7 linked regions of the Homo sapiens genome follow. Changing the gene in region 4 together with the main gene of any one other region gives a genetic interaction. Each region holds a gene or a part of one and is shown on either strand. Other genes may lie near its edges.

Region 1 (4,495 bases), on a different chromosome or scaffold from region 4:
AATTTTTTGTATTTTTAGTAGAGATGGAGTTTCACCATGTTAGCCAGGATGGTCTTGATCTCCTGACCTCATGATCCGCCCACCTTGGCCTCCCAAAGTGCTGGGATTACAGGCATGAGCCACCGCACCCGACGAGGTCTGATGGTTTTATAAGGGGCTCTCCCTGCTTCGCTTAACACTTCTCCTTCCTGCTGCCTTGTGAAGAAGATGCCTTGCTTCTCTTTCACCTTCTGCCATGATTGTAAGTTTCCTGAGGCCTCCCCAGCCATGCTGTGAACTGTGAGTCAATTAAACCTCTTTCCTTTATAAGTTACCTAGTCTCGGGCAGTTCTTTACAGCAGTATGAACCTGGATTAATATACCTAGTAATCAATCCATTACCAAGTCATGGAAGGTCTACCTGCAACATTTTCTTTGTAAGCCACTATCATCTCTTGTCCAACAACTGCCAACATTTCCCAACTAATTTCCCTAATTCCATTGAACATACCAACAATGTTCATAAAGAAAGGCGAAGAGGATAAGACAGAAATGTGTATCTGTAACAGGAGATATTTTGGTTTTGTTTTGTTTGAGAAAGAGTCTCACTCTGTCACCCAGGCTGGAGTGCAGTGGCGCGATCTCAGCTCTGGAGGCTCCTGGAGGGTGGCACGCCCGGGGAGGGCATGGAAACTCCATGCTCCTTCTCCTACACCTCGCCCTATGCACCTGCTCATCTGTACCCTTTGTAACATCCTTTGTAATAAACTGGTAAATGTGTTATCCTGAGCTCTGTGAGCCACTCCAGCAAACTGAGCCCAAAGAGGGAGTTATGGAAACCCCTACCTGGAGCCAGTTGGTCAGAAATTCTGGAGGCCTGAGGCCCTGACCTGCAGCTAGTGCCTGAAAGTGGGGAGGCAGATTTGGGACTGAACTAGTGCCTGAAGGGAGGCAGGCTTGGGGACTCAGCCCTCAACTCATGGAATCTGATGCTATCTCTGGGTAAATAGTGTTGGAATTAAATCAGAGGACACCCAGCGGGTGTCTGCTGCTTGGTGTGTGGGGAAGAAACCCAACACATTTGGTCACAGAACTCTTCTGTGGTCATGATTGTGGTGATGTGAGAGCATAGGAAGCACACAGTTTGCATTTTTCCCAAACAATGCCATAAAATATATACAAACCTTTCCATATGGTAGATCACAAAGAAAAAAACCTCATTCTTTTTTTTTTTTTGAGACAGGGTCTCCCTCCGTCGCCCAGGCTGCAGTGCAGTGGCGCGATCTCAGCTCACTGCAACCTCCACCTCCTGGGTTCAAGCGATTCTCCTGCCTCAGCCCCGAGTAGCTGGGATTACAGGCACGTGCCACCATGCCTGGCTAATTTTTGTACTTTTAGTAGAGAGGGTTTCACCATGTTGGCCAGACTGGTCTCTGACCTCAAGTGATCCACCCGCCTCGGCCTCCCAAAGTGCTGGGATTACAGGCGGGAGCCACCGTGCCCAGTCGAAAAAACCTCATTGTTAACCAATTATGAGGTCAGAAAAGGAAATCAAAACTGAAATTGCAGCATGGGTAAAATACCAAGAAAACACTAAATTGGTAAGGGCTTGGTGAATTCTATGGATGAAATGGATAATTTGCTACAAAAATAGGATTTACCAAAATGGATTGCAAAAAACAAGAAAACAGAAACAGAAAAACTAGAGAATGTTGTGAAAGAAAGGTCCTACTCCCCTTTCCCCTCCACACAAAGGCATCTGGCCCAGATGTCCAGGGGTGTTGCGGCGGCTTGAAGGACAGCGCCTTCCAATTCTCTGTGTAAACACTGCCCCAGCAGAGAAACGAGAACAGCTCTCACACAAACTTGATGGAACAAACATAACACTGTTATGAAAACATAACAGAAATACCTCACATATACACATTCATATCTCTTATGAATGGAGATGCAAGGATGAATTAAATAAACAAATGGAGATGCACAAATAAGCAAACAAAATCCAGCAGCATATTAAAATAATAATTGATAAACACAAAAGGGTTTTTGTTTCATGAATGCCAGGATGACTCAAAATTAGAGGATCTCATAATAATTTGCCATGTTAATAGATATTTCAACATCTATTCTTGATTTTTAAAAAACTCTCAATAACATATGAGCAGCTAAATATTTCCCTGACCTCCAAAACTCAGTATCATGTTTACCGAGGCAGTGCTAGAAGCACTCCAATTAAAGTCAAAACATGGCAAGGACAACCTTGATTGCCAATGTTATCTACATTGTTCTGGGGCATTAGCCAACTCAGCTAGAGTCACGAGATGTATTATGGAGATACACAAATTGGAAAGGAGGGAGAAGTATCACTATTTGCAGATGATATAATCAAATAAATAGGCCAGCCACGGTAGCTCATGCCTGTAATCCCAGCACTTTGGGAGGCCGAGGCAGGCAGATCACTTGACGTCAGGAGTTTGAGACCAGCCTGGCCAACATGGTAAAACCCTGTCTCTAGTAAAAATACAAAAAGTAGTTGGGCGTGGTGGCAGGTGCCTGTAATCCTAGCTACTGGGAAGGCTGAGGCAGGAGAATCGCTTGAACCCTGGAGGCACAAGTTGTAGTGAGCTGAGATTGTGCCACTGCACTCTAACCTGAGTAATAGAGCAACACTCTGTCTCAAATAATAATAATTGAATAAATAGAAAGCCCTAAAAAAAAAAAACAAAAAAAAACACCCTGTAAACGTTACTATAAACAATAAGAGATACCACTTTTCACTTCTCAGATTGTCAAAGATTGAAAGAGGTATTCTCTTCTTTGCTGGTGGTTATGCAAACTGATCAGCATTTACAAAGAAGAATCTGGAAATATCTAACTGCAATCACTTGTGAGCCTTCACACACCCACACCTGGTCTGTGTGTGGCTCTGGGACTGTAGGAATGTTCTCCAAGCAACACTGGGAATCTACCCCACTTGGGGAGACAGCTGGAAGGGTGAGTAAGGAGAAAAGCATTGATGTCAATTTGACAAGAAACAAACAGAAACAAAAAATGCAGGAAAAAAATATTAGAGAAAATATAAGAGAAAGAACTGTCTGAGACAAAGAATCTACAGGGCTCACATCTGTAGAGCTATTAAGGGATTTTTTAAAAAATTACATGGAAAGGTAGATTACGTATCAGCAAAATGGACTTTTCATTTTAACAACACAGTCCACAAGAAAGGATCATTTAGCCCTCTTAGAGATGATTTCATAGAAAGGAAGGTTACTAAGGAATAAAATCACATGATGTGAAACATCTATATTACTTTTGGGACCATAGGGACCATTGCCTGCATTTTGTTGGGGAAATCATAATTATTTTGAGTTTCTTTGCTTGAGATAGGGTCTTGCTCTGTCTACAGGCATGGTGATGCACACTTATAATCCCAGCTACTCAGGAGGCTAAGGCAGGAGAATCACCTTAACTGGGGAGGCGGAGGTTACAGTGAGCCAAGATGGCATGCAGTGGTGCAAACACAGCTTACTGCAGCCTTGAACTCTGGGGCTCAAGTGATCCTCCTACCTTAGCTTCTGAAGTAGCTGGGACTACACACAAGCGCCATCACACCCGGCTAATTTTTTAATTTTTGTTTAAATTTTGTGTAGAGATGGGGTCTCTCTATGTTGCCCAGGCTGGTCTCAAACTTCTGGGCTCAAGCAATGCTCCCACTTCAGCCTCCCAAAGTGCTGGGAGCACAGGAGTGAGCCACTGTGCCTGGCAAGAAAATTTTTCTTGCCAATTCATAGATGGTGAACTAAAGGACATAGCAAAGGCAGCGCTATGCAGTGAAAAACAATAAAAGCAGAGCCGAGGCTGAGGTTCGTAAAGGGATCATGGGCTACTGATCTAAGGGAGACAGACAGAGGCTTGGCAGTTGATGAGGCATTTGGTCTTCACCCAGTGAATTACTGGTTTTGTTTACAGGCCATGTGACACAATCTCCTTCCAGGTCTGCCAAAAGCTACCATGAAAAGAGCAGACTCTTTTGGTAGTGGGTGTTTGAGCCCATGACACTTAGGGGCTACCTCAAGAAGGAAGCTTGAATCCAACTTCTAAAGGGTAAAATCCAAACACTAAGTTGTTAGGAAAATAGAGTAAAAGAAAACCCAACAGTGCTGTGTGCTGTCATTGTCGCTGCCTTCCCAGCCATGGAGCCATTACACTGGAGATAAAAGTTGTACCATATCCAAAAACAACAGTGAAAGCATCCACACCATTCAGTCACAAAGACTACACTGTTTATCTTTGCATTTCAAGCTTGTTAAGAAAAGCAGGCTGGGCACAGTGGCTCACGCCTGTAACCCCAGCACTTTGGGAGGCCAAGGCAGGTGGATCACCTGAGGTCACCTGCCTGACCAACATGGTGAAATCCCGTCTCTACTGAAAATACAATAATTAGCCAAGTGTGGTGGCAGGTGCCTGTAATCCCAGGTACTTGGAAGCCTAAGACAGGAGAATCACTTGAACCCCG
Region 2 (4,495 bases), on a different chromosome or scaffold from region 4:
TATATTTATAGGGTATAAAGTGACATTATGATTCATGAATAAAATGTGGACTAATTAAATAAAACTAACATCTGTCATCTCAAATATTTATCATATTTTGTGGTGAGAACATCTGAAATTTACTCTTAGCAATTTTGATATGTACCACACACTATTATTAAACTATATTCACCACAGTTCCATCATTCTGTCCATCCATTCATTGACTGTATCTGTCTTTAGAGATGAGGTCTCGCTATGTTGCCCAGGCTGGAGTTGAGTGGCTATTCACAGGCACAATCATAACACACTACAGCCTGGAACTCCTGGGCTCAAGCAATCCTCCTGTCTCAGCTTCCCAAGTAGCTGGGACTACAGGTATGCGCCACTGCTCCTGGTTCACAATTGCTTTTTAAAACGAACTTTAAGTGCTGGTTCAACAGGTTTGGCTTGTATTATTCTTGAGATAGAATCAACAATATATTATTGCAGATATTAAATTTCAGACATAAATTTATTTATTCTACTAATATTTAACAAGCATCATCTATGCACCAGGCTCTGGGCCAGGTGCTTGAGATACAGTGGTAATCAAGATGCAGTAGTTGACCTCATAGAGCCTAGAAATATCTCTTAAGCAGCCGGGCGTGGTGGCTCATGCCTGTAATCCCAGCACTTTGGGAGGCCAAGGTGGGCGGATCACGAGGTCAGGAGTTCGAGACCAGCCTGGCCAACATGGTGAAACCCTGTCTCTACTAAAAATACAAAAATTAGCCGGGCATGGTGGCGGGCGCCTGTAATCCCAGCTACTCCGGAAGCTGGGGCAGGAGAATCGTCTGAACCTGGGAGGCAGAGGTTGCAGTGAGCCAAGATTGCGCCATTGTACTCCAGCCTGGGTGACAGGCAAGATTCCATCTCAAAGGAAAAAAAAAATGTGTGTGTGTGTGTGTGTGTGTATATATATGTATATCTCATAAGCTAATCTTTATAAAACTAATTTCAACCTTTTCTGTTAAAAAAGTAGACCTATGGACTAAGACAACTAATTAAAATTTTAAGAAAAGGACATCCCATAGATGCAGCAAGTAACTCCATGTCTCCAGAATTATCAGCACCTTCCTGTCAAAAGGTTAAAAAACTGACACTGATTACTGAAGTGATAGAGTAATCTGTTAAAGGGAACAACATACTGCTCACTGAAAGAAGAGAAGGCTCTTCAGGTAAATGGAAAGGGTTTTTATAACACACTCTTAGCATCTAAGATCAACAAACCCTTGCTTAACAGGAACTTAGCCATTCTTTATCTCATTTTTCACATGTTCCTATTAATATGGGTTTTACTGCCAAATACTGAATTGACTGATGCTCAGAAGAATCAATGACCTTTAGAGAGGGTGTTGGGGAAAGCAGTTCCCATCAACTAGCCCTGAGTCAGTTTGCTTCTAAGATTTTCCTCCAGTTGCCTGCCAGTTGACATCTGGGTAAAATGCGGAGGGTTGTTGCTCAGAGCTACAGACAGGATTATAAGGCATGGGAAGGTCCAGCTTGGAGTCAGAAGAGCACATGTTACCTCAGGTCTGAAGCTATGTTCAGTACAAAGTATTCAATAGAAAGAACTGTACAGTTACTATCTGGGGACGTGAGAGCTGGGAGAAGAGGAGGAACGTGAAAAATGAGACCAAGAATGGCTAAGTTCCCGTTAAGGAAGGGTTTGTTGATCTTAGTTGCTAACAGTGTGTTATAAAAACCCTTTCCATTTACCTGAAAAGCCTTCTCTTCTTTCAGTGAGCAGTATGTTGTTCCCTTTAAAAGATTACTCTATCACTTCAGTAATCAATGTCAGTTTTTTAAACTCTTGACAGCAATCTCTGCCCAGCTGCTGCTCTTCTCAAAGCGGCTATGTGGCTTGTTACTCACGCTTCAGGTGTCTACCTCACATTAAATATGGACAGATTTGACTTATTAGATATCTGTCAAATGAAGCTAGCATGGCTGGTTACGTTATACTATTTTAAATATTGAAGCGCTATCATATTTATGCAAATATTCTTGGAACTGATTGATAGGGAAGAAGTTTTCAAATTAAATGAATAAGAAAATGCTAATATGAAGAGGACGCATTGGAATTAAGATATTTACCCTGTATAGTTTTTACTCCTAATTTTATCTTTAGTTTGAGAGAGTAATGTATTGGAAAAATTCAATCTAAGAGATCATAAATTCTAAGAGATCACAAGACACTGGTTTAGATAGCTGGGAATAGATTAGCTTACCTTACTCAGTCCTAAGTATGTCACCATGGACATAACTGGTGCTGCCAATGCAAAGACCAGCAAGTGCTTTCTGATTCGATTCCGCTCTAAGCCAGCATGCATCAAGAAGGAAACCAGTCCAAAAGCAGCTGGTGCCTGGAAATAAAAAATCATCTCTTATTATCATTCTAGAAGTATGGGTTGCTTCTACATCAAGAAGTATATGCCATTTGACTATGATTTCTCATACAAAGAAAAACTCACAAAAGGCCAGGCACAGTGGCTAATGCCTGTAATCCTAGCACTTTGGGAGGTCGAGGTGGGTGGATCACCTAAGGTCAGGAGTTCGAGACCAGCCTGGCCAACATGGTGAAACCCCGTCTCTACTAAAAATACAAAAATGTGTGGTGGTGGGCACCTGTAATCCCAGCTACTTGGGAGGCTGAGACAGGAGAATCGCTTGAACCCAGGAGGCGGAGGTTGCAGTGAGCCGAGATCACACCATTGCACTCCAGCCTGGGTGACAAGAGCAAACTCCATCTCAAAAACAAAAAACAAAAAACCCACACACACACAAAAAAAACCAAAAAACAAAACCAGGCAGAGTACAAACGCTGAGCTATGCCTCTTAGGAATTAATGTTCTAAGCCAAGAAAAGATCCTATTTGTGTGTTTCTTGGATAGTAAAAAAGAGAAACAGTCAAGAAAAGAAAAATACTTTTGAACAGAAATTATTACTATGAAATATAAAAATCTGAGGAGAATTTGACAATTTGTGTATATGTCTACACAAAAAAATTGAAACCCCTCAAGGAAAAGCTTAAGAAAATGGGAACAAGAAGCTATGAACAGATTTATTCAATTTTCCAAAATGAATAGCAATTATGAAATGAAGAAAATGTTCCCATTCCAGGAAAAACATTAAGGACCATGAGAAATTTTAATTATGAATACACTCAATACCAAACCTTACACCAAAATGTTGCTTACCTTATGTAGCATGATTGCCACAAACACAATTAACTGGACACTGGTCTGTGAAGTAGATGCTGCTGCTCCCAAAGCAACACCATCAGCTATATTTGGAAACAAGGAAACATAAAATACTATAAACAACAACAACAATAACAGTGTAGTGGTTGAGTGTATGAGCTTTACAGTCAGGTCCAGCTGGATCTAGTAATGTTACTTAACCTTTCTACATGCCAGCCTTATCTTTAAAATGTGTTCAATGAAGTATGTATTTCTTAGGGTTTTCATGAGGATTAAATGAGATAACTTATGTAAAGAGCATAGCATCTGGCCCAGAGTATTCAATGTTAGTTATTTTGGTTGCTGTTGTTGTTATTGGAAAACTAACATTCAATTTTCCAACTAATCAAAAATCCATTGATTAGTTAATCAAATTCTAACAAGGGAAATACCAAAGAAGAATTTCAAAGGAAGCATCTCTTAATCTTATAGGTTAAGAAACAAAATAGTCCCAGCTACTTGGGAGGCTGAGGCAGGAGGATTGCTTAAACCCGGGAGGTGGAGCTTGCAATGAGCCGAATCGTGCCAGTGCACTCCAGCCTCGGCAACAGAGTGAGACTCCGTCTCAAAAAAAGAAATAAATAAAATAAAGATACTAGAACTCTATATAGATGATTACTACTTAATAAGTAAACACTGGTTGAATGAATGAAATTTGTTAGAAAAGCATATTATACTTAGAAAGGGCCAGGTAACAGTGTACCACCTTTCACATGCCTTTCTTTGCCACTGACAGAATTCTATTACTAGGACTAGGTTTGGGTTATGATTCTAAAGTGTACCCTGTCAGCAATGCTAAGATCTCTGCATTCCACTGCATACCACTTCTGCTTAAACTGGTGTTTTGCATATAAACTGGTAACAGAGCTGTTCAGGACAGAAGCGCCAAGGCTCTTTTCCAGATGACATTCTAGAGCCAAGAATGAAAAGAGCAAACTTCTTCTTAAGAGCTAGACAGTAAATATTTGAGGCTTTGCAGTTATTTGGTCTCTTGCAACTGTTCAATTCTGCCACTGTTGCACAAAAACAAAAGAGATGGATCATTGTCATTGTCTATCTCTTCCTCAGCCTCCTGCAACTTTATCTTCATTCTAACATCAGTCACATTTGCCTTTCTCCATTTTTTATTGCCATCACCCTAACCTAAATTTTCATCACTCAAACAAACCTAAATCAGCAATAGGTTCCCTACTCTCATTTTTCCCTAATCAAATTCACTGTCACAAACAATA
Region 3 (4,495 bases), on a different chromosome or scaffold from region 4:
TTTGAATGGAGGACGTCTACTGATGAATCCCCAGTCAATTCTCTTCTGTAAAGTGGAGGCTGACTGGAAGGTGTGAGTCCGAGTCAGTTGAAGGAGAAGTGCTTTGGGATGGGACTGAGATGTAGCCGTGCTTTAGATGGAACTCATAAGCACTTGGGGGTGGGAGAGTATTTTTTGCCATCGTTGTGGAAACCGGAATATGTGTAATGTTATGCATTCAGTAAAGGCAGGCCAGCTACACTCCACAGGTAGTAGGGAAGAATGTACTCGTGTTAATTGTGTATGATCGTTTCCATCTCCCTGGATTCATTGGCCTGCATGATGTTATCTTTACTCAGACGGCTCCTCTAACCATGTTTACAACTATCAACCCTGTGATCATCCACGGCAGCCTTGTGACAGTTCGTGCCCTTGTGTGATAGCACAAAATTTTTGTGAAAAGTTTTGTCAATGTAGTTCAGAGTGTAAGTATTTGTTGCTTTGATGCAATTGCATGAGAACTAAATAGGTCTTTGGTTAGCAATTTAAAAAATCAAAAATAAGAACATGGGAGCACTCCCTTGTTTACTTGACGAAACTCATCAATTTGACAAGTATTTATTGAGCCCCATACCTGGCCCTGTGCCAGTGGCCAGTCAGTCGCCTGGGTGTTGTGTGTCTGTGTGTGTGAGGCAGGCAAAGTTGTATTAAAGGAACCTGAATTTTATTTTTTTCTTCTTTGATCATTTAAATTAAGTTGTATTAAAGTTGGCACAGATTGTAAGAGGAATCTAGAAGGAGCTACCCAAATAATTTTTGGGCACCAGAAATCGTCAGAGTTAGGAGGGTTTTAGTCTTCAGATTAAAGGAATGTAGCATAAACATAGTAGATTTTTATAATTGTTTAATGAGACTGCACATGAAGCTTGGGTATTAAGGGAGTGTTTAGAACTAGGGGCTATTGGAATGGTCAAGGACCATGGATATTGTTCCATCCAGACCCTTTATTCACACCGACTTTAAATATATACACTATTTAACAAATGAAAAATGGAAAAACAACTCAGTGGTGGTCTTTTTCAGTGCAAACAGCTATAACTTCGCTGTTAATACTTCCATTTCCTTGTCTATATAGTAGGGTAATAAGGTGGTTGTGAGGGTTGAGAGTCAGTGAGATGCCCAGTACAGCCCTTGCCACGTATCTTTCTGCAAGTTTTTGCATACGGTGATGAGTGAAGAACCTCCAAACCTCTCTCTGAAGGTCAAAACCGCTTTCCGGGATGCCGCTGCAAAGCACAGTGCAACACCAAGCAGTGCCCGTGCTACCTGGCTGTCCGAGAGTGTGACCCTGACCTCTGTCTTACTTGTGGAGCCGCTGACCATTGGGACAGTAAAAATGTGTCCTGCAAGAACTGCAGTATTCAGCGGGGCTCCAAAAAGGTGAGCAACAAGTCACTTCTGGAAGATTGTTTGTAGTTAGCTATTTAGTGATGCAAATGTCAGGATTGCCTTAGATGATTTAGCTGGGGCAAAAAGTAAAAGTGATCCTTGAAAGGTGCAACTGATGAGAAAGTGTTCATAATTTTCTCTGGGTAATGCACCCTTGGGCAGTCTCTTCAGTTTTATATAGAGCACCATACTCTGATAGTAGGAGAAACCAGCAAATTCTGAGAAGTAGCCATTCATGGTATCAGATTTAGGAATAAGAGGTATTTTTTCTACCTGTTTAATAGATTATTTGAATTTGTCTTTTAGTTAATAGTTTATCTAGTATCCTTAATGCAAATAAATGGTGATTTCTATCAAAATATAGACTCATTCTCATCAAAGAGTATTTATAGATTCCTTGCTATGTAGAGTAAAAGATGAAATTTCCCATGGCAGGTTTTTATAGACTTACTTCCTGTTTGTTTAATAACCTTGAAAAAAACCCAGCTAGGAACTATATATTTTTAGTCTGGGGAATTGTATGTAGGTGAGTTAACTCTATCAGCCAGGAAGTAATGATTGAGCAAAAGACACTTCAGCAGCATGTATTTGGGAAATTTCGTATCTTTTTTTTTTTTTTAGGGCAGATGATAAGTTCTTTCTTCAGTCAGTTCTTTTTATAATAATAGCTGACATTTATTAAGCATGTAAAAATAGGCACTGTTGTGAGTGCTTTAGTGGATTTGTTCATTGATTCTCCTAACCCTGTGAGTGAGGAGTAAGTGTTAACCCCCATTTTACGGGTAAGGAAACCCAAAGTCACAAGACTTGTAAAGGAGCAGGAGATCAAATCCTCCAGGCTCCCATTAACCTGCTCTTATGCTCTGTGTGTGTGTGTGTGTGTGTGTGTGTGTGTGTATGTGGGGTGTAGAGTAGACATATCTTTGTTGTTGGACCATTTATTTATAATTGAGAACACACTTCTTACCAGCAAGTCCCCTTCTACCAGAAATTCTGCTCCAGGCAAAACATTGAAGTTCTCTTGGTTTTGTTTGTGTCTTTGAACCAAAGTCTGTGTTTATGGCAGAGAGTTGTGCAGGGTGGTGGGCTTTTTGTTTTTAGCTTTGACTTTTTTCTTTTCTGTTAGACATTTAGATGATTTTACTCTAGGCAGTTATATGTCCATTTAGGTCATTGGATCACAGTGACTCTGGTTCCGTTTCCGATGGCATACCTGCTCAGACCTAAAAATCTCAATTTCCCCCCCAAACAACTTACCATTGTACTCCTTCCTCACTTTGTTCAGAAAGTGGGCAATTCTATTCATACTGACATGTCCTCTTTGTAAGACATTTTTTAACTCTTAAAAATGTTAAACTATGTAGATACCTTTTACCAGTTGGGTTTCATTTGCATAGCAGTATTTAGCTAATTTAGTTTCTGATCAGAAGGCTATTTGGGAAGTTCACATGACAGGTGAGTGGTAAGATGGTCCAGAATAGGAATAGATAGGAAGCCTTTGTAAAGGTCACAAGAAAATTTTGGATGAAAGCATAATACTGAGCCGTGATGAAAAATTGGCATATGTTGGGGAACACATCCCTAAATACATAATTTATAGCAATGATCATCTTGGCATTTCTGCTGAAAATAGACTACTGGACTGACAAGATCATGATAACACCTCCCGGTAGTTTCTTGTGTTATCCTGAGGAGGTGGGGTGGAAGAACAAATCCAAAGCCAAGCTGCTATGGGCTTCAGAGGGAACCAACGCCAGTGAAGAATCAGGGGGTGTCCTGGGGCTGAAAATGGAATAACTATTAATAGAATCACTTGGGGAAAGTAGAGGGAAAGGTATGGAGAGGAAGAGTGATTTGGTGGTGTCCTTATATTAAATTCAGGTTGAAAGTGAATTACTCGAGGAAATCAAGGGCTGAAGATACAGGGAAGCCAAAAGTGCAGCAGGCCTAGAGCACCTTGCTGAACGATGGTCATTGCAGAGGACCAACACCACCAAAAGGTTTTCTGTAAGACAGAGATTCTTATCTGCTGTATAAGGAAAACATAATGTTCATAGCCATTCTCAGCAGCTTTCACGTTGACTGAAGCTGTGTGCCCAATTACTGCCTTAGAACAAACAGGTCTGAGGATTTACAGTGATAGCTTTTGTTTTCATTCTGTAGTCTACTTTGTCCCCAGTCCATTTTCACCCTCCTTTTTTGATGATGTGATTGTGTTTTATTCTCTAGCATCTATTGCTGGCACCATCTGACGTGGCAGGCTGGGGGATTTTTATCAAAGATCCTGTGCAGAAAAATGAATTCATCTCAGAATACTGTGGAGAGGTAAGGCACTGATAACCTGTATTCAGGTGGCATTGTATATACTAACTTTACTTTATTTTAGATTGATTTTATTAGGTAAGTCTGTGGGTTTGATTGGAAATGAATTGCCATAAACTGCCTTTTCAGCCTGGACTTCTGCATGTTTGTGGATTTGCATGCTTAGTAACTGGATTGTGCTGGGCGCGGTGGCCGACTCCTGCAATCCCAGCACTTTGGGAGGCCGAGGCAGGTGGATTGCTTGAGCTCAGGAGTTGGAGACCAGCATGGGCAACATGGCAAGACCCCATTGCTACAAAAAATGCAAAAATTAGCCGGGCGTGGTGGTGCATACTTGTAGTCCCAGCTACTTGGGAGCTGAGGCAGGAAGATCGCTTGAGCCTGGAAGAGCCTGGGAGGTTGAGGCTGCAGTGAGCCATGTTTGTGCCACTGCACTCCGGCCTGGGCGACAAAGTGAGACCCTGTCTCAGAGGGGAAAAAAAGCAAAACAAAACAGGATTGCTTGGTTCTAGCCACATTTAGTTTTTCTCGTCTAGGGACAACAGGGAGAACAAGAGCTTTACCATAGAGTGGCCTGCTTAATCCACAACCTAGTTGATAAGGACCTAGAAACAACAACGTCATTAGTTATTCACCTTTTAAATTGTCGACAGTGTTACCGAAAAATCATAGGCCTAGCTTCAGTTTGGAACCAGCTCACCCAAATTTTTTTTTTTTTTTTTTTTTTTTTTGAGACAGAGTTTCG
Region 4 (4,495 bases):
CTCTCCATCTAAAGTAGTCCTCCCCACCCCTACAATTACTTTGAAGCTCATCACCCTATTTATTTCCTGGATAGCACTTATTAAAATTATATTCTTCATTTGTTTACTTGTTTACTCATTGTCTCTATGTAAGTTCTTTGAGGGCGGGTACCTTGTCTTTCCTGTCACTTCTATATCGCCAGCATCTACAACAGCTCTTAACATACTGAAAGCATTCAATCAACATCTGTTGTGTAAAAGGACAAAGCAACTGAATTATTAACTATATGCATACTTAGGTTATAGTGACAAATGGTAACAGATGTTGACAACTGATAAATGTGCATTTTGTTCAAGGAATATAATTTTGAGCTTTGTGTGGGAATGAATTATGTAAATTAGAAAGGTTTCCTGCTGTGTACTGATCATATACAGTATATTCTTCCGGTGGCCTGTGGTTTCCCTTTGGTAATAAATAATTCCTTGTTCAGTAATTCTTATAAAAATTCATAAGCAAATAAATGTTTTTATTTATCACATTAATGCAAAAGCTCAAGAATAGTTGTTTTTTAAAAAGCCTCTCAGATAGGTGCATAACTTTGGGCTGGCGTTCATTCTTCCCACTTAGCTGACATTTCTGAATCTTGATCCCAAGGTCTTTAAACATTTTATCTGAATGAGTGTACTCTCTGAATTTAACACCAAATGTTCTGCATCTCAACCTTGGACTTTTAAAAGATGATTTTTTTTTCTGTTCTGTACCAAATTACAGAAAAAAATTTTTTAAAGGACAAAGTGAAAAAATACACTTTATCACATAAAAGAATCACCTATGTATCTCAAAACATTTTTCTCATTCAGAATCTCATTATGTTTATAAAACACTATACTTCCAAGGCTCTTAGATGTTTATTAACTGAAATAATAGAAGAATTATGTCAACAGTAAAATTTTCACATTAATCTATCCAATAGGATTCAAGTATATATGTTAGCCCCTTAGATAACATGTGTTCCAACAAAAAAAATATATAATTTTTAACTAGGTAGAATTTATGTATACAGTATTTAAAATTTCAGGTTGGCCTAAATAAGTTGTTCTGGACAAGTTTTGTTTTTATTAAAAATTAACCACTGGATTAAGATGACAATTATTGCTTCCTTTAGTTAATACTCAAAAAGAAAGCCATCCTTTGCTCCTGTGTAACAAATGGCCTTTATTAATTAGGTCTCTCAGTTTGTGTGCTGGCAACATTTGGCAAAGTCCAGTCCTCACCAAAAATAGTAACAACCTGCTCTGGATGGCAATCAAGCAGCAAGCCTATTTTTGGCCTCAATGTTTGAAACACCAAATGCCAGATGCCATCGAACAGAACCTTAAATGGCATAAGTAAACTGGTCTGATACTGAAATACAGAAGGATTTGAGGCTCTCCAAAACACTTGTTTCTTTAGTACAAAAGAAATAAATGTTTCAGACTTAGCAGGGGAATTCATATCTAATGCTGACATATGTAAAACCAAAAGAATCTTAACAGAAGAAAGGAGCAGCAGAATGCTATAACCTCAGCTTTAGTCCTTAACATTACTCTAAATTTTCTGTTTGTTCAGTATTTCTGGCTTTTATTATTAATATCTTTGTTAGCTTACCTGTCTCTGAGTGTGCTGGGGCCTAAATAAGGATATAGGTTTTCCTTAAGCCTTCCTTTGATGAGATGATCCAGGGTTTCATGTAGGAAAGGTTGATGCTGTGTATATACATTTTCTACTCCCTAAAACAGGGGAAAATGGTTCTTATGTCATTTTTGGGAAATTGGCAACACAAGAATTAATAATATTCATATCAGAAAAGGACATACACTCAATAGAGATTTCATGGGATAGATTTACGTAACTGTGGGAAATTTAAAAATTATTTTAATCAGCTAGAAATGTTCTAATCTCATAAAAATTACTCTGTAATTTAGGGCTAGTTATTGTAAAGGATTTTTTAAAAATGGAATTGCTTAAATCCTTAATCATGTCTTCACTGTCTCTCACCCTTTTGTGAAATGTTAAATGATAGGTAGAGCAAATAAAAGGAAAGGATTATGTATAAAAAAGACTGAAAATACCCAGGAAAATAGAAAAACTTCAGGAAACATAAGAAAGGCTGCCGGGCGCGGTGGCTCACGCCTGTAATCCCAGCACTTTGGGAGGCCGAGGCGGGCAGATCACAAGGTCAGGAGTTCGAGACCATCCTGGCTAACACGGTGAAACCCCATCTCTACTAAAAATACAAAAAAAAATTAGCCGGGTGTAGGTGGTGTATGCCTGTAGTCCCAGCTACTCGAGAGGCTGAGGCAGGAGAATGGCGTAAAACCCGGGAGGCAGAGCTTGCAGTGAGCCGAGATCACGCCACTGCACTCCAGCCTGGGAGACAGAGCGAGACTCCGTCTCAAAAAAAAAAAAAAAAAAAAAAGAAAGGCTAGCAGATTAGAATTAATTTTTGAGTATTTTAAGAAAACAGGTTAGTATTTTTAAAAGATCAAAAGTTTGCTTCATCTTTAATTTCCTTCAAAGAGAAACTACCTAAAAAATCTTTAATTATAAACAAATGGTGTAAAATATCTGTGACTAACAGAACTGTTGGTCTTTTTCTTCTTATTTCCTGGAAATACCTCCAGTTATTTCCTGCTAAGCTATTTGGTCCAATGTTGATACGGCTCTAAGACAGAAAGCACTAAAAGAAAAAGCTTTCAAGAGGATGCCAGTTTTAATTTCATTTAACTGACACAGTACTAAATTAGCAGCAATCTTCAAGATACTTTGAAGATCATATTCATTCACTCTCAGCCTCAAGGACTTCAACTGTTCTCACTCAGGAGAGCATAGAGGAGATGTCTATACCTTCAGTCCTTTGAGGAATTGTTTGGTGATAGCCACAGCATCTTTGGGGCTGAAGAGGTCACTTCCTCTGACTCGTTTACCACCATATTCAACAACTGCAGACACGAGCTATTAAGAAAGAGAAGCAAATTTTGATTGCTTAGGCATCAGGAAGCCCATTTCATAAGAAAATAATTTTATTAAGGAAACAAAAATGAAAAGACAGAATTATACATTTCTGTAAATAAAAATAGTATGATTTATCATTCGTTAGAGCTAAGAATATAATAACAGAGTTGGTTCCTGTTTGGTGGGCTAATATGGAAACTGGTTACCTTTCGATACTTCTCAGAAACACCTTTATTCCTGAGGTCCATCATTAGTCCTGGCAGGCTATTGCTGCTGTGTCGCTCATAATGTAAAGCATAAAGCATCACCAGGCGGGCAGCATCAAACTCTGTCACTTTGGGGTTCTGCAGAAGCCTTTTTATATTCTGAAGAAAGATAGAACTTATATTTATCCCCCTTTCACTTGAGTCATCTGTTGTACAATGCCTTAGATCTAATAATTATTGAATGGTAGTGATACATCACTACTATGACAATTATAAGTCATACATTTAGCAACTGTCTCAACTATAGAAAATTAAATGCCTTTTGTCCAAGGTAAGAATTAAATAAGGAAATATATTTCCATTGTAATTGCTTTAGGACAAAAATGAATTTAATAATGGATAGTTCCACTTTTCTTTTCCAATAGCTGAAGTTGTAATTTCCTTGCTGAAAGAACACTTACTATTTCCACGACTTGAATCAATACGGCACAACAAAACTGACTAGTTGATTTGCAAAACCTACTGCTTTCTCTTAGTATTAATGATTGACCAGTGAAATGGAGACAAGTTGGTAGAATTTTACACAGACTGGGCTTGATCTCTAAGAAGCATCAGAACATGTCTCAACATGGTTGACAGAGATGAGTATGTAATAGCATGTAATCTCTAGATTTAGTACTTAATGATTTTAAGAGGCAGGTACCGATAGGAAAGGGGGCCAGGAGAAGCCATGTTTACATTTTTTAATCCTCATATTCAGGACCTTCCATATAGTATAGATTTATATTTATTATGCAGCAGAACAAATAATTTAATTCAAGTCAACAAATACTTTTGAGTCCCCATAAGGCAGTATGTCATGCACTGTTGCAGGCACACAGATAAGTTAAAGACAATTCCTGTCCCCAGTGAGTTCACAGTCAATGGGGTGAAGGATGATCAAAGTAATATAATTTATTCTGCTATATACATGTTTCTTTAATGTACTTTAGTTCTGTGAGATGGATAAATATGGAAATGGTGTCAGTTTAACACAGAAGGCATATTGGTTCACATGTAATTTTTCCAGAATGGATAGGCTTTCTTATGATTAAAGGGGAAGCCTTACCAATACCTTAAGAAAAAAAGATGATAATCCTACAGAAGTGTGTTCTGCAAGAAGTATCTGGTTTTGTAGCTTCAAGAACTGTTGCACTTTCCACTGTGTTATGCTATATGGGGAAAGGGCAAGTGCAAATAAAAAGGATGCAAATATATTGCACTGTGTAAAAAAGCAAAACAAAACAAAATAACAATCAAACACTGATTGATGAAG
Region 5 (4,495 bases), on a different chromosome or scaffold from region 4:
AATCAAGAAACATTCATTAACTGATTCATATACCTTTATAAATAAAGTGAAGTGCTTTCGCATGTTATTTAGGAGAACAAGAAGACAATGGAGAGGAAAAATGGAGAAAGAGGCTACAGCAAGTGTGCAATGTGTCTTAACAGAGCCATTAATATGGCTCCAGGCAGAGGATTCTCATCAGATGCCTCCTTCTGTAGCCTGCTCACTCCTTCTCAAAGTAGCAGTTACCGTTTTCCAGGTCTAAATGCTGTGATTGACTGTTGGCCTATGGGAAATGCCCACGAGCTCACCAGGGTCCAGAAGTTCATAAGAACACTCGCGTTCAGCACGCTCAGGACTTTGGGAAGGTGAGAGCAATGTCACTGTCTTTATCCTTAGAACCCCTCACTTGCACAAGAAGGTGCTCAATAAACAAGTGAATGAACAGGATCAGGGGTTGCAAAAGAAATGTCGATAAGGAGATGAGCTTAAGGCAAAGAAAGCTTCATCCTTAGTACAGTCGGCCCTCGGTATCTGTGAGATTGGTTCCAAGACCACTCCTCCCAATACCAAATTCCATAGATACTCAAGTCCCTCATACAAAATGGCATAGTATTTCATATAACCGATGTACATCTTCCCATACACTTTAAATCATCTTTAGATTACTTATAATATCTAATACAATGTAGAAACTATATAAATCGTTCTTGTGCTGTTTTTTTGGTTTTGTTTTTTGAGACAGAGTCTCACTCTGTCGTCCAGGCTGGAGTGCACTGGCTCGATCTTAGCTCACTGAAACCTCCACTTCCTGAGTTCAAGCGATTCTCCTGCCTCAGCCTCCCGAGCAGCTGGGATTACAGGTGTCTGCCACCATGCCCAGCTAATTTTTGTATTTTTAGTAGAGACAGGGTTTCGCTATGTTGGCCAGACTGGTCTTGAACTCCTGACCTCAGATGATCCGCCCACCTCGGCCTCCCAACGTGCTGGGATTACAGGCATGAACTACCACACCCGGCCTGTGCTGTATATTTTATTTGTATTATTTTTTATTATTATTTCAAAATTATTTTTAACCTGCAGTTGATTGAATCTGCAGAGGTGGAACCCGTGGATACAGAGGGCCAACTGTACTGATACCAAAGGTTCCAGTGGGAAGAGCAGCTGGTCATCCGGCTCTCAGTCTAGGACTATTACTGACAGCCTAGCACTTGCGTGCAAGTGGCTAGCAGACTGGGTGTTAACATGCTGAAAAAAGTTTAAAGTTATAAAATACTTAGGAGTATTAGAAAACTAACACTTCCTAAGTTACTGAAGGAATCCTGAAACACAATTTATATCTTTTCACGACATCAGAAATCATTTCTAATGGTTGGCCATTAGGAAACCAAATCAATAACCAATTTAAGAAGGTAGAGATCATACAATAGAAGAAAAAGCATCACTGAATATAAATATCACCATCATCTTCATTAAAGGATTTTTTGCCATAAAGATGCAAATAATTCAGAGGAGCCATTCCCTTTCTCAGGGCATGAACCCCACTGAGAAAGAAATGGACTGAAAGCTATCCACAGCCATCCTAGGGATCCACAGACACAGCGTAAAGTTCCCTGGGCCATGTTATTTCATCAAAGTACAACCTTAGCTCTAAACACTAACTCTGAAAGAACAGCAGTATGTATATAACTCTGAAAGAACAGCAGTATGTATAAAATATTTACTGAGGAGAAAAAACTAGTTTTGCCTAACTTCGAAGGTAATAATTTACAGTGATTTAAAATAACCACCTGAGATTTTTTTACAGCATATATTATTATTATTATTATTTATTTTTTGAGATGGAGTTTCACTCTGTTGACCAGGCTGGAATGCAGTGGTGTGATCTCAGCTCACTACAACCTCAACCTCCCGGGTTTAAGTGATTCTCCCATCTCAGCCTCCCAAGTAGATGGGACTACAGGTGTGTGCCACCACGCCTGGCTAACTTTTGTATTTTTAGTAGAGATGGGGTTTTGCCATGTTGGTCAGGCTGGTTTTGAACTCCTGACCTCAGGTGATCTGCCCACCTCAGCATCCCAAAGTGCTGGGATTACAGGTATAAGCCACTGCACCTGGCCCATACTTAACAGCAAATATGATTAAAATTAATAAATATACAAATACTCCAGGGATTTACTAGAATAAAAGCCATGGTGCTTTCTAAGCCCAAACTGTGGTTACAAATGTCATTAAAAACCTAACTTAATAAATAAGAGAAGAAAACAAAAACCATAGTTAAGGACAATAATTCTCCTTGTGTGCACATTAAATGTGTATGCCTTTTCTCCAATTTAAAAACAAAAAGAAATTAATTAATTAATAATATCATCTTACCTCACCAAGATAAATGACAATTTGAAAGAAAGTATCCATCAGCAAAATTCTGTCAGCTAGAATGCTGCTGCTATCCAAGAGTACTGGCTGAAGAAAAAGAGAGAGAAAGATGGCATTGGTCTTCCCTGCTCCCCACACAGCAACCACTTCCACCCGACCCTGATCCCATGCCTGGTATCCACAGCAAAGGCTATTTACAAATGGTGCCCAGCACAGTAAGTCACCCCTTTTCTTCCTGACATACTTCCACTTTCTGCTTCTGACTCATTCTCAACTTTGTAGGAAAAATAGGCTCCAAATAATTCCTCATCAATTGAGAACGGAGATTAATGATACCTTTTTTTTTTTTAAGAGTCAGGGTGTTGCTCTGTTACCCAGCCTGGAGTAAAGTGATGTGACCCTGGCTCACTGCAGCTTCGACCTCCTGGGCTCAAGTGACCCTCCCACCTCAGCCTCCTGAGTAGCTGAGGCTACAGGTGCATGCCACCACGCCCAACTAATTTTTTATTTTTTGTAAAGACAGGGTCTCACACTATGTTGTCCAGGCTTAATGATATCTTTTGATCTTGGAACGAAAAATAATTCTGAATATTCTCAGTTTTGTATGTATTTTAGCAATCTCTACAGACATTCTCTGTAGATGAGACAGAATACGGATACCTATATGAAAAGCAGCATTTAATACAAGTTTTTAAAGTTTACTACAAAATATAAATTATGGCTGGGCGTAGTGGCTCATGCCTGTAAACCTAGAACTTTGGGAGGCCAAGGCAGGCAGATCACTTGAACCCAGGAGTTCAAAGCCAGCCTGGGCAACATGGCAAAACCCCATCTCTACCAAAAACACAAAAAATTAGCCGGGCTGTAGTGGCACGTGCCTGTGGTCCCAGCTATTCAGGAGGCTGAAGTGGGAGGATCACCTGAACCTGGAAGGCGGAGGTTGCAGTGAGCCAAGATCGCACAACTGTACTCCAACCTGGGTGACAGACACCCCATCTCAAAAAAAAATACGTTTATTATTTATTTGTAAGTAATATTTTATATTATATAAGTATATAATTTATATTTATATATACATATATAATCATATACATATATATTTATATACATAGTTCTTATATATACATATATAATTTATTATATTTACATATACACATATAATTTTTATATATGTAATTATTTCTTTTTTATTTTTATTTTTTGAGAGGGAGTCTTGCTCTGTTGCCCAGGCTGGAATGCAGTGGCGCGATCTCAACTCACTGCAGCCTCCGCCTCCGGGGTTCAAGTGATTCTCCAGCCTCAGCCTCCCAAGTAGCTGGGATTATTGGCGCCATTCCAAGCTAATTTTTGTATGTTTAGTAGAGATGGGGTTTCGCCACATTGGCCAGGCTGGTCTCAAACTCCTGATGTCATGTGATCCCCCTGCTATTTTAGTAATTATTTCAATAATAAAAGTAAGTGGTACTCGATAAAGAAAATTTTTAAATGTGTACCCAAGTACAACAAATATTGATATTTTGTTTTTTTCCATATAGTTCTTTATTTTTGCAGGGAATATTTAGAAACGTTTCTATTTTGACTTTTTTTCATGTAACATTTTTACATAAGGACTTATCTATTTTATTATGTTACATACTTTTTGTGAATACTGTTGGCCCTCCGTATCGGTGGGTTCCACATCTATAAATTCAACCAATCTTGGACTGAAAATATTTGAAAAAAATATGCATCTGTACTGTACATGTACAGACTTGTTTTCTTGTCATTATTCCCTAAACCATACAGTATGACAATTATTTACATGGTACTTACATTATATTAGGTATTATAACTAATCTAGAGATGATTTAAAGTATATAGGAGGATGTGCCAAGGTTACATGCAAATATTATGTAATTTTATATTAGTAACTTGAGTATCTAAGAATTCTGGTATCTGAGGGAGGTCCTGGAACCAATCTTCCATGAATACTGAGGGTCAACTGCATTTCTCAGGTTACTTATTTATTTTCCTATATTAAACATTCGGATTGTTATTTGATCCTCTATTATAGTAGTTCCTTTACTATTTTTTTTTTTGGCACAAAGTCTACTCTGTATCTAGGAGTCTTTCCTTCAGATACAAGACATGGAATTGTTGG
Region 6 (4,495 bases), on a different chromosome or scaffold from region 4:
CTGTGTCCTTCAGGCAGGGTGCAGTAGTAAGTTATTGATACTTGGCTGCTGAGCTGTCGTTCAGGCCTTGGCAACTGACGCTCTGCAGAACGGACCAGGAGTGTGCGGTGGTGGAGTCCGGCTGGCCTGGGTTGCAGATTTAACTTTCGCCTCTGCCTCTGTGTGCCTCTGGGCTGTAAGCTTTAGTTTGCACGGTTAACGGGGATGGCCTCTCCCATGGTCGGTTGGAGTGTGTTGCACAGCGTCTGGTCCAGTGTTGGCACTGTATAAATGCCAGCTAACTGGTTAGCCACCTAAACTGTCAGTCTGCAACCCACAGCTCTGCAGTGAACAATTGAACCTCATTTCTTTAATAATAATACAGGATTCCTGAAAACCAACTGTATTATTGTTTGGAAAATAGTTTAAAAATTATTTCCTTCTAACTGAGACGTTTACCCTCTTGTCTCCCTTCAGTCTGCGGGCCAGGCATCGACATCCGCAACGACTATCAGCAGCTGAAGCGCCTGGAGAACTGCACGGTGATCGAGGGCTACCTCCACATCCTGCTCATCTCCAAGGCCGAGGACTACCGCAGCTACCGCTTCCCCAAGCTCACGGTCATTACCGAGTACTTGCTGCTGTTCCGAGTGGCTGGCCTCGAGAGCCTCGGAGACCTCTTCCCCAACCTCACGGTCATCCGCGGCTGGAAACTCTTCTACAACTACGCCCTGGTCATCTTCGAGATGACCAATCTCAAGGATATTGGGCTTTACAACCTGAGGAACATTACTCGGGGGGCCATCAGGATTGAGAAAAATGCTGACCTCTGTTACCTCTCCACTGTGGACTGGTCCCTGATCCTGGATGCGGTGTCCAATAACTACATTGTGGGGAATAAGCCCCCAAAGGAATGTGGGGACCTGTGTCCAGGGACCATGGAGGAGAAGCCGATGTGTGAGAAGACCACCATCAACAATGAGTACAACTACCGCTGCTGGACCACAAACCGCTGCCAGAAAAGTAAGAATGATGCTGACTGCTGCTTTCTCTCTGCCTCTCTCTCTCCTCTCCTCCTCCTTGACCTCCCTTCTCTTCTGAGTGCACGAGTTCCGCTGGGCAGGGTGCAGTCGTGTTGCATTTAGGACGTGGCATGCCTGCTGTGCGGAAGTGGTTCCCAGTGGGGGTCTTGGTTGGCTTTCCTTTGCATCTGGGACTCTTGGATTGCGGGACTGTGGCGTGGCTGGAGGCCATCATGGCTGCTGTCAAGACTGTTCAAATCACATGTTAGAAATAATCCAGCACACTCCTGGGCTAGACACTTGCTGACCTTCAGCTTTGAATTCCTGATGAGAAAGGTGACCTGGTGTGCTTGGAAGTCCCTGAGCCTTGGCAGCTGGGGGCTGCTTATGTGTCAGCTCTTTCATCCTTTGTGCGAAGTGATATTTTTTGTTCTGCAGGACTTCCTTAGTTTGAATGGACTTGGAATATGGTTAAATAAAGGGAAGGTAAAGCACTAACTCATATCCTGTGAAAGTGGTCCTTAGGTCCTAGTGATGATGTTATGATACTCAGGTGTCCTGGTTATGACAGAGCACCTGGCCCAGGTGGGAGACCTCTGGACCCATTTCTGCAAGTCCCAGGTTCAGGCTGTACTTGCAGGTAGCTGTGTAGCAGGGTGCATTTTTAAACCTCTGGGATTCTGTTTTCGTTCTTTTATACCTGTTTACTGAACAGTTGTGAAAATCTTAAGATTTCACGAGTGAAGGAACTTTGGAAAGTATTTACTGTTCTGGGGGTCAGATGGTGGTATTTTGAAGCTTCTTGTATATTTATCTGCAATATGCTTATTTTCCCTTGAGAATAACTGAGCTCTTGCCTTCATGTGATCAGTTCCTTAAGAACCAGGCTGTTTGGTATTAAAATGTGACTCTGAGCCTTCACCTTATTGCATTCAGCAATAGTTATGTATATTGGCTAGGAAGCTTTTCCTCACTGGTTTGAAGTCAGTGTGTTAGCTATAAATAGCTATTATTTAAGTGTTGGCCCAGTTAAAGATGTAAGGAACCCATGTTCTCTAGTTATGAAGAACCAAGAAACCCCAAATTGTTAGACTTGCCTAAAATAAATAAAAGGCGAGACCCCACAGGGGTGAAGTGTGTAAAGTAAATAAAGGACAGACCTCCCAGGTAGCCCTTCAGTTCCCGTTCAACCAGTCCTGAGGCAGGAAAAGGATCTGTGTACCCTGATCTGCCACGCACTTTTCTATTCTGCAGAATTGGATCAGTGCGTATGTGAACATTGATTAGTGAGGGCAGGGGTCCCACTGGCTGCAGCCAGTACCTTGTAGAGCTCTGAGAATGCAGTCAGGCCACTTTAAGGTTGGCTGGAGTTGGAGGGAGATCTTATGCTAAAGTCACTTGTGTGGTTGATTAAAACTGCCCTATCATTAAGTTACCCACTGGTTTGAGAAAACAACAAAATATATTTTTTAAATAACCTTGACATTTAAAAATTTTATCTGAAAAGTAAAAGGTGTTATCAAGGGAGGCAGCATGGAGTAGAAAAGAGATGTTGAATGTGGTGATGAGGGCCAGGAATGACCTTGGATGGGCCAGCCCTTCTGGGCTGTAGTTGGGCTTTTTTAGGATATTTCTAGGGCAGTCCAGTACATCCCTTAGTGGTGATCATATATGGGCATGAGGATGTTTTGAAAACTCATAAGCTCTTTAGAGAAGGGAGGTGCCATATGAAACGTCATTAAGTGGAGAGTTGTTCACGAACTAGGTAGGTAGTTACTTTGGTCTTGCCATAGGTTTTTGGCTGTTTCTGATGAGCTACTGATTGAAGACCCCTGGGGTAGGGGTGAGGCCTGCATTCTGGGTCCAAGTCTAAGAGTGGCGACTAGAAATGAGCAAGTTATTTAAATTGCCTGGGCCTTGGTTTCTTCATATGTGGAATGGGGTAAAGCCTGCCTTCCTCATAGGGCTGTTGGAAGATGAAAAGGAGGAAGGAAAAGCACCGTGAAAATGTTAACGATGGTTAGAAGGTGGGCTCTGCTGGTGACAGACAGAGCCTTGATATCACCTGTTGGTTGGTCACCTGCTTCCCCAAGGCCACGCCCTGCAGCCTTCTCCTTGACCATCCCAGCCCTGCTGATGTTCCTTGTGATTTCACAATGGAGTACTTATATAAAATTGGTAACTGCTTTCCGGGAAATTGACTTCCCTTCCCCTTGTCCTGAAAACTCAGGCATGGGCATATTTCTTGGAGATTTTCTAGTTGAATCAGAACTTCCTCTTGGTTTGCGTAGATTCCATTTAGACCTGCATTGTCCAGTGTGGTAGCCGCTTATTGAGTAAGCCACGTGGCTTATTGAGTACTTGAACTGTGGCTTGTCCGAATTGGGACTGCTTTAGGTGTAAAATATACACTAGATTTCCAAGACATAGTATAGCAAAAACTCTGTACACCATTTCATTAATAATTACTATGTTGATAACATGTTGAAATATAACATTTTGGATATATTAGATTAAGTAAAATGTGTTCTTAAATTTCACCTGCCTGTTTCCTTTTTATTCTTTTTTTTTTTTTTTGAGGCGGAGTTTCGCTCTCATCACCCAGGCTGGAGTGCAGCGGCGCGATCTCGGCTCACTGCAACCTCCGTCTCCTGGGTTCAAGCGATTCTCTTGCCTCAGCCTCCCAAGTAGCTGGAATTACAAGCATGTGCCACCATGCCCGTCTAATTTTTGTATTTTAACTGGAGACGGGGTTTCACCACCATGTTGGCCAGGCTGGTCTCAAACTCCTGACCTCAGATGATCCGCCCGCCTCAGCCTCCCAAAGTGTTAGGATTACAGGTGTGAGCCACCATGCCCGACTCTTTTTAATTCTTAATGTGGCTACTTGAAAATTTAAAATTACAGATGTGGCTTGCATTCTGTGTTGGTAAGCTGCTTTAGAGCATTTCTTTTAACACCAGGAGTTCTTCCCCTCATCATCTTTTTGGCTGAGTCGTCACTGCAGCGCTCATAGCCCCGCATGTACCTCTCCAGCCAGAACCCTTAGGAATCATTTGGGGAGCTCCATGAAGGGCATTGAGTCCAGGCAGAATGGCTACCTTGAGTTCAACATAAGCATTAAGATGGCCATTCGAAAACATTAAGCACAGAAGAATCCCATTCAGGTAATCTTCTGTTGGCTGGCTGTAGAACTACGGAGAACATCTGGAGAAACACGTCAAGGGTGTGTGTGAAATCGTTGAGCCTACTCGATTTTGTCGTGCTGTTGCGCGGTTTTCACTTGGCACTGTCCTTTAAACTCCTTCTGTGCCGTGACTCTGCAGTGTCTGGCAGCGTAGTAGACTCTACTCCCTCTATGGACGTGATCCCTCTGTGGGTTCTCTGCACACTTCTGTATTTCTCGGTTCTTTTTGGATTTAGGAGTGGATTTTATACATTTTTGAGTCATTCCTAAAGAGCGATTGACCCTTAAAGAACTGTGTACAGTGGTT
Region 7 (4,495 bases), on a different chromosome or scaffold from region 4:
AGTTGAGTATCTTAATCCTAGCTGTGAACTAAATATTCAGCACCCCAAGGCTGAATATGGTATTCAGTTTAAAACACCTACTCCACAACAGAAGTCTCCTTGCTTTCACATTGGCTTCCACCAAATTGTAAAATTAAATGACAAGCATAAAGTTATACAACTCAGCATAGATAACTATCCAAGTGATATGCAGTATCATTCAGGAATTTAGGCTCCTTTGTGGGACATTTTATCATCTTTTAAAGCAAGTTAAGTTTAGAGGCAATAAAGACAAAATGCCGGGGTTTAAACCCTACTGCTGCCTTTTTTTAAGACAGGGTCTCACTCTGTCTCCCAGGCTGGAGTGCACTGGCTCCATGACAGCTCATTGCAGCCTTGACCTCCTGGGCTCAGTTGGTCCTCCCACCTCAGCCTCACCAGTAGCTCGGACTACAGGCACCCACCAACACACCCGGCTAATATTTTTGCAGAGATCAGGTTTTACTATGTCGCCCAGGCTAGTCTTCCAACTCCTGGGCTCAAGCTGCCCACCTCAGCCTCCCAAAGTGCTGGAATTCCAAACATGAACCACTCCACCTGGCCCCCTGCCTCTTACTAATTGTGTAACATTAAGAAAAAATATTAAAGTCCAAGATTGTTTTCCCATCTGTAAAAAGAGCATACCTCAGATATTTGCAGAGGGTTAAAACTAGTTAACACACTTAAAGGACACAGAATAGTCTGACACACATCCTAAATGATTGATAGAAGTTACTATTTTGAAGGGGTAAAGCACTATAAGCACTATCTAAACATAATTTAATAAAGCAAACTTTTTATTTACTCAATGGCTTAATTTTTTAAAACTGCATAGGCTTTATAAACTTTCCAACATTAAAAGGAAAAGGCCACAATGAGTTTTATATAAACATATTCTAATATTTTCAATGCTGCCAACTTGAAATAACCCAGAAATTTTTAAATAGTCCATGTAAAAAAATATATAAACTAAAAATTAGGTGGTATTTCAACTAAGACCCTTTAAATGTAGCTTCCAAAATCACCTTGATGACTTGGTCTACCCTACATTTATGCCAGTAATTTTAGTAAAGAATAATTTAAAACATAAAAGGAAATATACATGGAGCAATCCTGGCTGGTGGAAAATGTTCCGATTTAATAATCCTGGCTTTTCCCCATCAATAAACTTATTCTCTGGACTATTTAGGTCACTAGGTTTTTAACATTCCCAGTCAATATTAACTATTTTATTCCAAGATACCTCCCCTAATAAGTCTTTATTGTCAAACACCTTATTCAAGGTAAAAAGTTAGCCATTATACTCACTCCCAATTTTGGAATAGTATTCTTTTTCTATGTTCTATAACTTCGTATTATTTTTACTTTTTTAGAGACGAGATCTTGCTCTGTTACCCAGGCTAGTCACAGAACTCCTGGACATAGCGATCAGCCTCCCAAAGTGCTAGGATTACAGGCATGAGCCACCACACCCAGCCAATCCTTTAACTTTTAAACACTTCCTAACAACTTATGATCTTACATACATGGCTTTATAACAAGTTCTGACAGTTTAAAAAATACAACAGAATGTCAACCTGATATACATTTCAGGTATAAAACATAAATGACCAATCACTGTCATCTTTTAAAGTAATGTTACTCAAGCACACCATTAAATCCTTACTGAATTTTTCCAGTATTTTATCCATCATAATTATTCTTCTAAAATCCTAAAATGACAAACTAAAGCTAAGTCACTAGTTACCTAAGGGGAAGGGAGGAGGTTACAATGCAACTAGATAATATCACACGTTAGGGTATTTTACAAGTTGTATGAAAACTACCTTGGGAGAGAGCTTGACAAGCTTTCATCGAGTTCAAATACTAACCAGCCTTTTTAGATCTGATCTGGTATAAAATTCATGAAAACCACTTTTTTGAGACAGAGTCTCGCTCTATTGCCAGGCTGTGGTGCAATGGTGTGATCCTGGCTCACTTCAACCTCTGCCTCCCAAGTTCAAGCAATCTTCCCATCTCAAGCTCCTGGGTAGCTGAGACTATGGGTGCACACCACGAGGCCCAGCTAATTTTTTTTTTTTTTTTTTTTTTTTGTAGAGACAGGATCTCATCATGTTGCCCAGGCTGGTCTGGAACTCCTGGGTTCAATCTGCCCACCTCAGCCTCCCAAAGTGCTATATTACAAGCGTGAGCCACCGCACCCAGCCCACTTTTTTTAACTATTTAAAACTAATGAGACATTAAGGTTAGCCAATAACAAATCTTCCCCAAAAAACACTTTAGTCAATAAAAATATAAATTTTGGTATTATTTCCCCATCATTAAAGAATAGGTATTCCTCTCCCCCAGCTTTCTACAGATGACATTTTCAAGGTAAGTGTGAAAAAGAATTCCATTTATTCAAGACTAATATACAATGGACCAAACATTTTCAGAGACTTCTCTGTATTAAATCTCATTACTTCACACTTTAGAATGAACCTAACTAAATGACTACTAAAAAGCGAAGTTGAAAAAATAAACATCTAATAAATGAAACATGACAGTTTTTTTGGGAGGGGGACAGAGTCTCGCTTTGTCGCCCAGGCTGGAGTGCGGTGGCGCGATCTTGGCTCACTGCAACCTCTGCTTCCCGGGTTCAAGCTCTTCTCCTGCCTCAGCCTCCCAAGTAGATGGGACTACAGATGCCCACCATCATGCCCGGCTAATTTCTGTATTTTTAGTAGAGACAGGGTTTCAACATGTTGGCCAGGTTGGTCTCGAACTCCTGACCTCAGGTGATTCGCTTGCGTCAGCCTCCCAAAGTGCTGGGATGACAGGCATAAGCCACCGCGCCCGGCCAACATGACAGTTTTTTAAATAAACTTTTTTTTTCTTTTTTTGAGACGGAGTCTTGCTCTGTTGCCCAAGCTGGAATGCAGTGGTGCAACCTTGTCTCACTGCAACCTCCGCCTCCAGGGTTCAAGTGATTCTCCCGCCTCAGCCTCCTGAGTGACTACAGGCGCATGTAACCACACCTGGCTAATTTTTGTATTTTTAGTAGAGCTGGGGTTTCGCCATGTTGGCCAGGCTGGTCTCCAATTCCTGACCTTAGGTGATCCACCCATCTTGGCCTCCCAAAGTGCTGAGATTACAGGTGTGAGCCACTACGCCTGGCCTAAAAATAAAACACTTTAAGAGACCAGGTCTCACTATCAAAATGCAGTGGCTCCATCATAGCTTCCTGCAGCCCTGAGCTCCTTCCTGGGCTCAACACATTCTCCTGCCTCTGCCTCCTGAGTAGATGTAACTACAACTACAAACACACCCCCCAACACACTAGCCTTTTTTTTTTTTTTTTTTTTAAAGAAACAGGGGTCATATTATGTTGCCTAGCTGGTCTAGAAATCCTGGCATGAAATGATCCTCATACCTCAAGACTTCTGAGTAGCCAGTGATTACAGGCACGAGCCACTACTTTAATTAACTTTAAATGCTTAATCCAATACCTCCTTTTCACTTCACTACAAGGAAGCAATGACATCTTGTATGTTTACGTTTTAAATAAGCTCTCAATCAGCTTTGTAAGGTAAACTCCCATTTACCTAGAGGTTAAGGAATAGGTATTTTCCTTAACCTGAAGGTTAAGGTTCTGGTTAACTGAGATTACTACATATTCACAATTCTATAAAACTGTGTACTGGAAATCAATTTAGGTATCAATGCTGAAGTCAGAAAATGATTTGTACCTTGATGAATTTTCCAACGTTTTAAAATCATGTTACTTTTCAAAAGTGTAAGGAAAAATCTGTAGGAGATTCATTCCATGACATTGTCTGTTGGTTGCTTTTTGAGTATATTTTCTCATGGCTTCATCTATCTTGCTCATAAGACTAAATGGGGAGACAGACTTCCTGGCTGTGTGGGCTCTGTGGTAGTCTGAAGTCTAGATAAGCAGGAGTTTACAGTGCAAGACCCAATACTTAAACTGTCACCTTGATTACTGGCCAAGCACCACCAGTAAATTGGAGTCTTCCCTCCCCACCCCCAAATATTCTTAAATACCTAGCTCCAACGTACAATATAATACTCCAGAAACTAAAACATGCTTACCTTTACTCCACAGGAGTAAATCACTGGCAGTATCAACTATTAGGGCACTGGATAAATACACACAAGCTATGAAAGCAGGCTATGTAGTCAATCCTCCTGTGGTGAGCATTGTTTCCAACACATAGATCAGCAAACCAAGTAACAAACATGTCGTATTACCTGAAACCACACTGTTGGAAGTGAAGCAACAGAAAGAGATCCCACGCTTTCAGCATCCAGTTCAGTGCCCTATCTACTAAAACGTTGAAGCAGAACTGAAGTCAAATCAAGCTTGGACTAACATAAGTTATGTTTCACCCATTTGTAAATGTGCACACACTTGAGGTACACAGCTTCCAAGTGGAATGGGAAAAAAAATTACTCTATTCCTTTTTAAATGCTTTCA

The links.
Region 1: changes in VPS45 (region 4) and VPS51 together harm fitness less than expected from each alone (positive genetic interaction), as found in Homo sapiens cells (one large-scale study listed by BioGRID).
Region 2: changes in VPS45 (region 4) and SLC39A9 together harm fitness less than expected from each alone (positive genetic interaction), as found in Homo sapiens cells (one large-scale study listed by BioGRID).
Region 3: changes in VPS45 (region 4) and EZH2 together harm fitness less than expected from each alone (positive genetic interaction), as found in Homo sapiens cells (one large-scale study listed by BioGRID).
Region 5: changes in VPS45 (region 4) and SEC23B together harm fitness less than expected from each alone (positive genetic interaction), as found in Homo sapiens cells (one large-scale study listed by BioGRID).
Region 6: changes in VPS45 (region 4) and IGF1R together harm fitness more than expected from each alone (negative genetic interaction), as found in Homo sapiens cells (one large-scale study listed by BioGRID).
Region 7: changes in VPS45 (region 4) and HNRNPD together harm fitness less than expected from each alone (positive genetic interaction), as found in Homo sapiens cells (one large-scale study listed by BioGRID).

What each region holds. Positions count from the first base shown.
Region 1 is NC_000011.10:65,102,109-65,106,603, reverse strand, and holds part of VPS51 (vacuolar protein sorting-associated protein 51 homolog), read right to left. Parts: intron 1-4,495. UniProt on the Homo sapiens protein: Acts as a component of the GARP complex that is involved in retrograde transport from early and late endosomes to the trans-Golgi network (TGN).
Region 2 is NC_000014.9:69,453,624-69,458,118, reverse strand, and holds part of SLC39A9 (zinc transporter ZIP9), read right to left. Parts: intron 3,308-4,495; coding exon 3,222-3,307; intron 2,388-3,221; coding exon 2,253-2,387; intron 1-2,252. UniProt on the Homo sapiens protein: Transports zinc ions across cell and organelle membranes into the cytoplasm and regulates intracellular zinc homeostasis. Participates in the zinc ions efflux out of the secretory compartments.
Region 3 is NC_000007.14:148,810,883-148,815,377, reverse strand, and holds part of EZH2 (histone-lysine N-methyltransferase EZH2), read left to right. Parts: intron 1-338; coding exon 339-464; intron 465-1,240; coding exon 1,241-1,419; intron 1,420-3,657; coding exon 3,658-3,753; intron 3,754-4,495. UniProt on the Homo sapiens protein: Polycomb group (PcG) protein. Catalytic subunit of the PRC2/EED-EZH2 complex, which methylates 'Lys-9' (H3K9me) and 'Lys-27' (H3K27me) of histone H3, leading to transcriptional repression of the affected target gene.
Region 4 is NC_000001.11:150,090,781-150,095,275, reverse strand, and holds part of VPS45 (vacuolar protein sorting-associated protein 45), read right to left. Parts: intron 3,340-4,495; coding exon 3,181-3,339; intron 2,975-3,180; coding exon 2,867-2,974; intron 1,750-2,866; coding exon 1,628-1,749; intron 1-1,627. UniProt on the Homo sapiens protein: May play a role in vesicle-mediated protein trafficking from the Golgi stack through the trans-Golgi network.
Region 5 is NC_000020.11:18,549,036-18,553,530, reverse strand, and holds part of SEC23B (protein transport protein Sec23B), read right to left. Parts: intron 2,443-4,495; coding exon 2,356-2,442; intron 1-2,355. UniProt on the Homo sapiens protein: Component of the coat protein complex II (COPII) which promotes the formation of transport vesicles from the endoplasmic reticulum (ER).
Region 6 is NC_000015.10:98,707,106-98,711,600, forward strand, and holds part of IGF1R (insulin-like growth factor 1 receptor isoform 1 precursor), read left to right. Parts: intron 1-456; coding exon 457-1,002; intron 1,003-4,495. UniProt on the Homo sapiens protein: Receptor tyrosine kinase which mediates actions of insulin-like growth factor 1 (IGF1). Binds IGF1 with high affinity and IGF2 and insulin (INS) with a lower affinity. The activated IGF1R is involved in cell growth and survival control.
Region 7 is NC_000004.12:82,363,685-82,368,179, forward strand, and holds part of HNRNPD (heterogeneous nuclear ribonucleoprotein D0), read right to left. Parts: intron 1-4,495. UniProt on the Homo sapiens protein: Binds with high affinity to RNA molecules that contain AU-rich elements (AREs) found within the 3'-UTR of many proto-oncogenes and cytokine mRNAs.